2 linked regions of the Homo sapiens genome follow. The protein of the gene in region 1 purifies or fractionates together with the protein of each later gene. This does not show direct contact. Each region holds a gene or a part of one and is shown on either strand. Other genes may lie near its edges.

Region 1 (4,118 bases):
TTGAGCCCAGGAGTTGGAGACCACCCTGGGCAACATAGTGAGACCTCGTCTCTACAGAAAAATTTAAAAATTAGCTGGGCATGGTGACGTATACTTGTAGTCCCAGCTACTTGAGAGGATGAGGCAAGAGAATTGCTTGAGCCCAGGAGTTCGAGGCTGCAATGAGCTGTAATTGCACCACTGCACTCCAGCCTGGGTGATAGAGCAAGACTCCGTCTCTAAAATCATAAAAATTAGGCCGGGCGCGGTGGCTCACGCCTGTAATGCCAGCACTTTGGGAGGCCGAGGCGGGCGGATCACCTGAGGTCAGGAGTTCAAGCCCAGCCAGGTCAACAAGGTGAAACCCTGTCTCTACTAAAAATACCAAAAAAATTAGCTGGGTGTAGTGGCGGGCACCTGTAACCCCAGCTGCTCAGGAGGCTGAGACAGGAGAATCACTTGAATCCAGGAGGCAGAGGTTGCAGTGAGCCAAGATCACGCCATTGCTCTCTAGCCTGGGCAACAAGAACGAAACTCCATCTCAAAACAAACAAACAAAAACATAAAAATTACAAATAATTAATTAAATGTTTGAACCCAGGTATTTGCATTAATGTTCTTCGTTGTCTTTTTCATCTCTATTTCTCTTCCAGTTTAAGAAAACCCCTCCTAAGATCCCTTATAAGGCCATCGCACTTGCCACTGTGCTGTTTTTGATTGGCGCCTTTCTCATTATTATAGGCTCCCTCCTGCTGTCAGGCTACATCAGCAAAGGGGTAAGCTGACGGGCATGTGGGAATAAGTTGTGAGATTTTTAAAATGTTAGCCAAGGCTCTAGTGTGCGTGTGTGTGTGTGTGTGTGTGTGTGTGTGTGTGTGTGTGTGTTTGTCCGTCCCAGTGGTCTGTTTTTTTTGAGACAGGGTCTTGCTCTGTCATCCAAGCTAGAGTGCAGTGGCACAACCTTTACCTCCCTGGGCTCAAGCGATCCTCTCACCTCAGCCTCCCGAGTAGCTGGGACTACACGTGTGTGCCACCACACCCAGCTAATTTTATTTTTTATTTACTTATTTTTGTTTGTTTTATTTTGTGTAGAGACAGGGTTTCACTATGTTGCCCAGGCTGATCTCTAACTCCTGAGGTCAAGCAGTCTGCCTGCCTCAGCCTTCCAAAGTGCTGGGATTGCAGGTGTGAACCATTGCCCCTGGCCAATTTTTTTTCCAATTTTTATGGGTACATAGTAGGTGTATATACTTAGGGGATACATGAGGTATTTTGATACAGCCATGCATTCATAATAATCACATCAGGCTAAATGGGGTATCCATCCCCTCAAGCATTCATCATTTGTATTACATTCCAATTATACTTTTATTTATTTATTTATTTTGAGACAGAGTCAGGCTGGAGTGCAGTGGCATAATATCGGCTAACTGCAACCTCCGCCTCCCAGGTTCATGCTATTCTTGTGCCTCAGCCTCCCGAGTAGCTGGAATTACAGACGTGCGCCACCGCACCCGGCTAATGTTGGTATTTTTAGTAGAGATGGGGTTTCGCCATGTTGCCCAGGCTGGCCTCCCAAAGTGTTGGGATTACAGGCATGAACCACTGTGCCTGGCCTATTTTTAGTTATATATATACATATACACATACATACATACATACATATATATATATTTTGGAGACAGAGTCTTGTTCTGTCACCCAGGCTGGAGTGCAGTGGCAGGATCTCAGCTCACTGCAAACTCCGGCTCGTGGGTTCAAGTGATTCTCCTGCCTCAGCCTCCTGAGTTAGCTGGGACTATGGTGGCAAGCCAGCACACTTGGCTTATTTTTGTATTTTTAGTAGAGATGGGTTTTTGCCATGTTGGCCAGGCTGGTCATGAACTCCTGACCTCAAGCGGCCTGCCCGCGTGGGCCTCCTAAAGTGCTGGGATTACAGGCGTGAGCTACCACGTCCAGCCTTAGTTATTATATTTTTAAATGTACAATAAATTATTCTCTAGTCACTTTGTGCTATCAAATACTAGAGCTTATTCATTCTATGTAACTATATTTTGTACCCGTTAACCTTCCCCATTCCCCCCTACCTTTCCCAGCCTTTGGTAACCATCATTCTACAATATCCATGAGTTCAATTGTTTTAATTTTTAGTTCCCGCAAATGAGTGAGAACATGGAAAGTGTGTCTTTCTGTGCCTGGCTTAATTTCACTTAACATAACGTTCTCCAGTTTCATCCATGTTGTTGCAAGTGACAGGATCTCATTCTTTTTAGTGGCTGAATAGTACTCCATTGCATATATGTACCATATTTTCTTTATTCACTTGTCTGTTGAAGAACACTTTGGTTGCTTCCAGATCTTGGCTGTTGTGAATAGTGCTGTCATAAATATGGAAGTGCAGATACCTCTTTGATAAACTGATTTCCTTTCTTTTGGGTATATACCTAGCTGTGATTGCTGGATCATATGGTAGTTCTATTTCATACTGTTCTCCATAGTGGCTATACTAATTTACATTCCCATCAACATTGTACGAGGGTTCCCTTTTCTCCACGTCCTCGCTAGCATTCGTTATTGCCGTTTTTTTTGGATAAAAGCCATTTTGGCTGGGTGCAGTGGCTCACGCCTGTAGTCCCAGCACTTTTGGAGGCCGAGGCAGGAGGATCACTTGAGCCCAGGAGTTCGAGACCAGCCTGCGCAACATAGCGAGACCTTGTGTCTATATTTTTTAAAAAGCCATTTTAACTAGGATGAGATGATATCTCATTGTAGTCTTGATTTGCATTTCTTTGATCAATGATGTTAAGCACCTTTTCATATACCTATTTGCCATTTGTATGTCTTCTTTTGAGAAATGCCCATTTTTGATTGGATTATTAGATTTTTTTTCCTACAGAGTTTGAGCTCCTTATATATTCTGGTTATTAATTCCTTGTCAGATGGATACTTTGCATATATTTTTTCCCATTCTGTGGGTTGTCTCTTCCTTTGCTGTACAGAAGCTTTTTAACCGGATGTGATCTCATTTATCTGTTTTTGTTTTGGTTGCTTGTGCTTTTGGGGGCATTACTCAAGAAATCTTTGCCCAGTCCAGCATCCTGGAGAGTTTCCCCCATGTTTTCTTATAGTAGTTTCATAGTTTTAGGTCTTACATTTAAGTGTTTAATCCATTCTCATTTGATTTTTGTATATGTCAAGAGATTTGAGGGGTCTAGTTTCATTCTTCAGCATATGGATATCCAGTTTTCCTAATACCATTTATTGAAAAGACTGGTTCTTTCCCCAGTGTATGTTTTTTTGTTTTTTGGTTTTTTTGTTTGTTTTTTTTTTTTTGAGACAGAATCTCACTGTGTCATCCAGGCTGGAGTGCAGTGGCACCATCTCGGCTCACTGCAACCTCAGCCTCCCAAATAACTGGGACCACAGGCATGTGCCACCACACTTGGTTAATTTTTTTTTCATTTTTTGTATAGATGAGGTTTTGCCGTGTTGCCCAGGCTGATCTCGAACTCCTAGACTCAAGCAGTCCAGGAGTACAGTGGTGTGATCACAGCTCTCTGCAACCTCAATCTTCAGGGCTCAGTCGATCCTCCCACCTCAGCTTCCCAAGTAGCTGGAGTTACAGGTGTGAGTCACCATACCTAGCTAATTTTTTTGTTTGTTTGGTAGAGATGAGATCTCATTATGTTGCCCAGGCTGGTCTTAAACTCCTAGGCTCAAGCAATCCTCCTGCCTCAGCCTCCCAAAGTGCTGGAATTACAGGCTTTAGCCACTGCACCCCTCTGACTATGTTTCCCGTTGTGTGTTAATTATGGTCAGTGTGAGGCCCACCCTAGCCTCCCAAAGTACTGGGATTACAGGCGTGAGCCACCACACCCGGTGGATGTAGAATTTTATCAAATGCTTTTCTAGCATCGATTGAAATAATCATATGGTTTTTGTCCTTCATTCTGCTGATACGATTTTATCACATTGATTGGTTTGTATAAGTTGAACCATCCTTGCCTCTCTGGGATAAATCCCACTTGGTCCTGATGAATGATCTTTTTAATGTATTGTTGAATTCAGTTTGCTAGTATTATCCTCCTTATTGAGGATTTTTGCATCAATGTTCATCAGGGATATTGGCCTATTTTTGT
Region 2 (3,500 bases), on another chromosome or scaffold:
TTATGCCATTTTGATTGGTTTGTTTCAGGTTGCCTGAATTTTTAATACCCCTTTCTTGTCACAGAGAAGAGAACTTTGTTATTTTTGGCTTTCACTGGAGTTCTCACTTCAGAGTTGGTTAGTATGAGTTTCTGCTTTCCAAGCTGACATGTTTTTTTCTTTTTAGCATCTGTTCCATATACAGGGTGAATAGCTACAGGGTTCCAAAACTGCGAGTGAAGCACCTCCTCCACATATTCCTCACTAGCCTGCATAACTGACAGCACTTGGCTGTCTCCGGCCCTGCTGTCCTAGCTACTCTGCAGCTCTGCCCACCTGATACTGCGCCACTGATGGCAGGCAGTGCTGTTGGGAAGAGAGCAAAGGAAGTGAGTCTGGTGCTGTGAGAACAAAGATAATAAAGGTAATTACTAATATGCCTTTAGTGTTTTTCGCATATTTTTCTTACGGATCCTCACACCATCCCTCTGAGAAATATATTATTATTGCCTCCCATTTAAAAATTCTATATGCATATTTGTATACTTTTCTTTTTAAATAAAGGCAGGAGAGAAGAAATACTCCAGATAGGAGAAATATTCTTTTCTTTTCTCCTCTTTTGCAGAGAATGTTAAGGCAGGCTCCTTAATTTTGATTCAGAGGTTTTGCATTCAGAAGTAAGTGTTCCTGTCTTGTGTAATCTTTTGCCAAATCATCAGCAATGTACATTTCACACATTGCAGGGAAGCATTTGGGTGCTCCTCCTCCCTTTTCTATCTCTAGAGATACTGTGTAAGCCAAATGCAGCACCGAGGATCCCAGGATTACTGTAAATATTTTAAGCACATTATGGAGACTGATTATATAGGAAACTGGGGTAAGCAAACTACTCCATGGAGTGAGTGAGTACTTCTCTATACTGACATTTGGAATCTCATTCCAGATATTTAGTTCAAAGACAGTTGCTTTTTTCACGGTCATGATATGTTAATATCGGGGAGCAGTTCATTCATATTCAAAGGAGAGAACAGTGGCCTGGCTGATAATATATTTGGTTACTGCACCATGGGATCAGGCCTCTTATCAGCTATTTTTAGTCACATAATGATTATCCTTGTTTAAGTCTCTTCCATTTTCTTTTTGTTGTCTTTATTCTAATGCATTGAGGAAACATAACATTGGTTTTAAAACTGCAGAATTTTTGTTTTTAACCCTCAGTAGTTACTGTATATGTAGCAAACTAAGTGGTCTTCTGGGACTCGGCGGAGCGGGCCCTGCTAAGCGTGTAAGATAGTGTGCCGTTTCTGCTACGTCCCCTGCCCCAGCGTGCCGTGTCCCCAGGTTACTCTGCTGTCCATTTGTGCTGGAGAGAATAATAGAAATAAACAGTCTTTCTGGGTCCACTCTAAGTTCATTTTCCTGTTGCCCCTTCCTGAAGCTTGGAAATACATTTATTCAACTCGATTGAACTCTTCTACTGTCTGATTTTCTGGTGTTAGAGTTTGGGCAAATTTTCTGGAAGGGAAGACACCAGCGTGGGCAGGCAACTGAGAAGGGTTCTCGGGTAAGAATAAACTGGGCTGGATGCAAACACAGCGATGAGTGAAGATTGTAAATGAAATGCACAGTTAGGGGCTGTTGTAATACTCCAGGTGTAAAATAATGAGGCCTGAACCCATGCAGCATCAGAGAGACGTGCAAGTCATGATGGAAAACAGCTGGGTTGCAATCAAGCCATACAAATGGAAACCAGGGAGATGAGAGATGAGGGAGGAGCTCTCCCTGGTCTTGGGCAAGTAGAATTGTTGAGCTTGTAGCTTGCTTGTCTAATATTTGTCCTTTAGAGAGCCCAAGATACTTTGTACAGAGTAGGCAATACTTTGTAGAGTCAGATTATTGAAGTTGAAGGTGACTTTACAGATCTTTGCCGCGCAGTAGAGTGGCCACTAGCTGCATGTGGCTGAAGAAATGGTGAGTCATGGTTGAGCTGGGCTGTAACGGCAAAATGTGCACTGGATTTCTGAGACTTAGTATGAAAAAGGAAAATAAAACAGTTCATTCATAATGTTTTCTGTTTATTATATATCGAAATAATATTTTGGATATGTGAGATTAAATAAAATATATTATTAAAATTATTTTATGTATCTCTTTGTACTTTTTTAGTGCAGCTGCTAGAAAGTTTAAAATTGTATATGTGGTCTGCATTATATTTCTATTGGTGAACAAATTATAGATCATCTAGTCCAAATATTTTAATTGATTATTTATGGAATTGCAGACTTGCAGAAATAAAATTATCTGACGGTCAACACCCCCATTGCTACACAGGGAAACCAAGGTCATGAAAGGTGAAGTTCCAGGGACTTGTCTGGTCTTCCAAGGGTAGTACCAGTGTGAAAGAACTAAAGCCACGTCTTTGGATTCCCCAAGTATTAAAAAAAATTTGTTTTTCTTCCCTGCCCCCTCCCTCCAGCATTTTTTTCAGGGTTATTTATCTTCCTCTTGAGTCAGTATCTCCCTCGGGCACACTCTAAGATATCCACCTTCAGTTAATTTTGAAAATGAACTGGGTCATGGCACTAGGAAATACCATTATATTTCTTTGAACCTAATCTCTAATAGAATCTGGTTGCTTGCGTCTTTTAGTATGGTCTGATATTATCAGTCAGTATTTATGGAGAGGATCTTCAACACACTCACGATTTATGATTAATCTCACTTTTGACTGCATGATAAATCTTAGTGTCCTACACAACAACCTTCTTGAAGACCAGTGGGCGTCTCAGCAGCAATGTTTTTCTTCTCAGAGACCGGTCATTGATGGGAGTTGAGCACCTTTTAAAGCAATACATTTAAAAATGTGTTCCTGCTACTGCACATTTTCTCCATAACATATTACTTTCTCAAATAAGCATGTTGGAAAAATGGAGGAAGTAAATACAAAAGAGAAGAAGTCTGAATAGATAATGTTCAAATACCATTAGGTTGTGAGTGGCTCTGAGTCCTGCTAGGAAGACAAAGGTAGGTTTTATTACCAGGGGATGCTGCTGGACTTTTAAAATTGTTCAAGACTTTGAGTTTTTAGGCATTTCTTTTAAACTACATTGATGAAATTATGGACTGTGATAATAAACACAGTGATGGCAACCAAGATGATACTATGTGATGATTAGTTGTCTGATAACTTGTATCAGTGTGTGGTTACTTTGATTTCACTCATAATTTGTGAGTCCATATGATGAGAGCTGTGTTGTCTGCAGTCTGTGATATTTTTCAGTGGAGATCTTGGCCTTCTACGCGTGGGTATAGAGTGTGGCTGAAGAGCCCCAGGGTAGGAGAGCTAGTCCAGAGTTCTGAGACCACCCGCCAGGCTCTTCTACGCAGGATGATATGTTGACAAGATATTACAGGGCAATGTCGGCAGTGTTGTGCAGAGGAAGTGGGGATGCCGTCTGTGTAAACATTGTGATGATGTCTGTGTTAACACTATGAATTCAGCACCATAGCGTCACACCATG

The links.
Region 2: the proteins of TMEM230 (region 1) and ATP8A2 purify together in Homo sapiens (affinity purification with western blotting, with the first as the bait; one study listed by BioGRID). This does not show direct contact.

What each region holds. Positions count from the first base shown.
Region 1 is NC_000020.11:5,102,825-5,106,942, reverse strand, and holds part of TMEM230 (transmembrane protein 230), read left to right. Parts: intron 1-632; coding exon 633-755; intron 756-4,118.
Region 2 is NC_000013.11:25,378,474-25,381,973, forward strand, and holds part of ATP8A2 (phospholipid-transporting ATPase IB), read left to right. Parts: intron 1-3,500. UniProt on the Homo sapiens protein: Catalytic component of a P4-ATPase flippase complex which catalyzes the hydrolysis of ATP coupled to the transport of aminophospholipids from the outer to the inner leaflet of various membranes and ensures the maintenance of asymmetric distribution of phospholipids.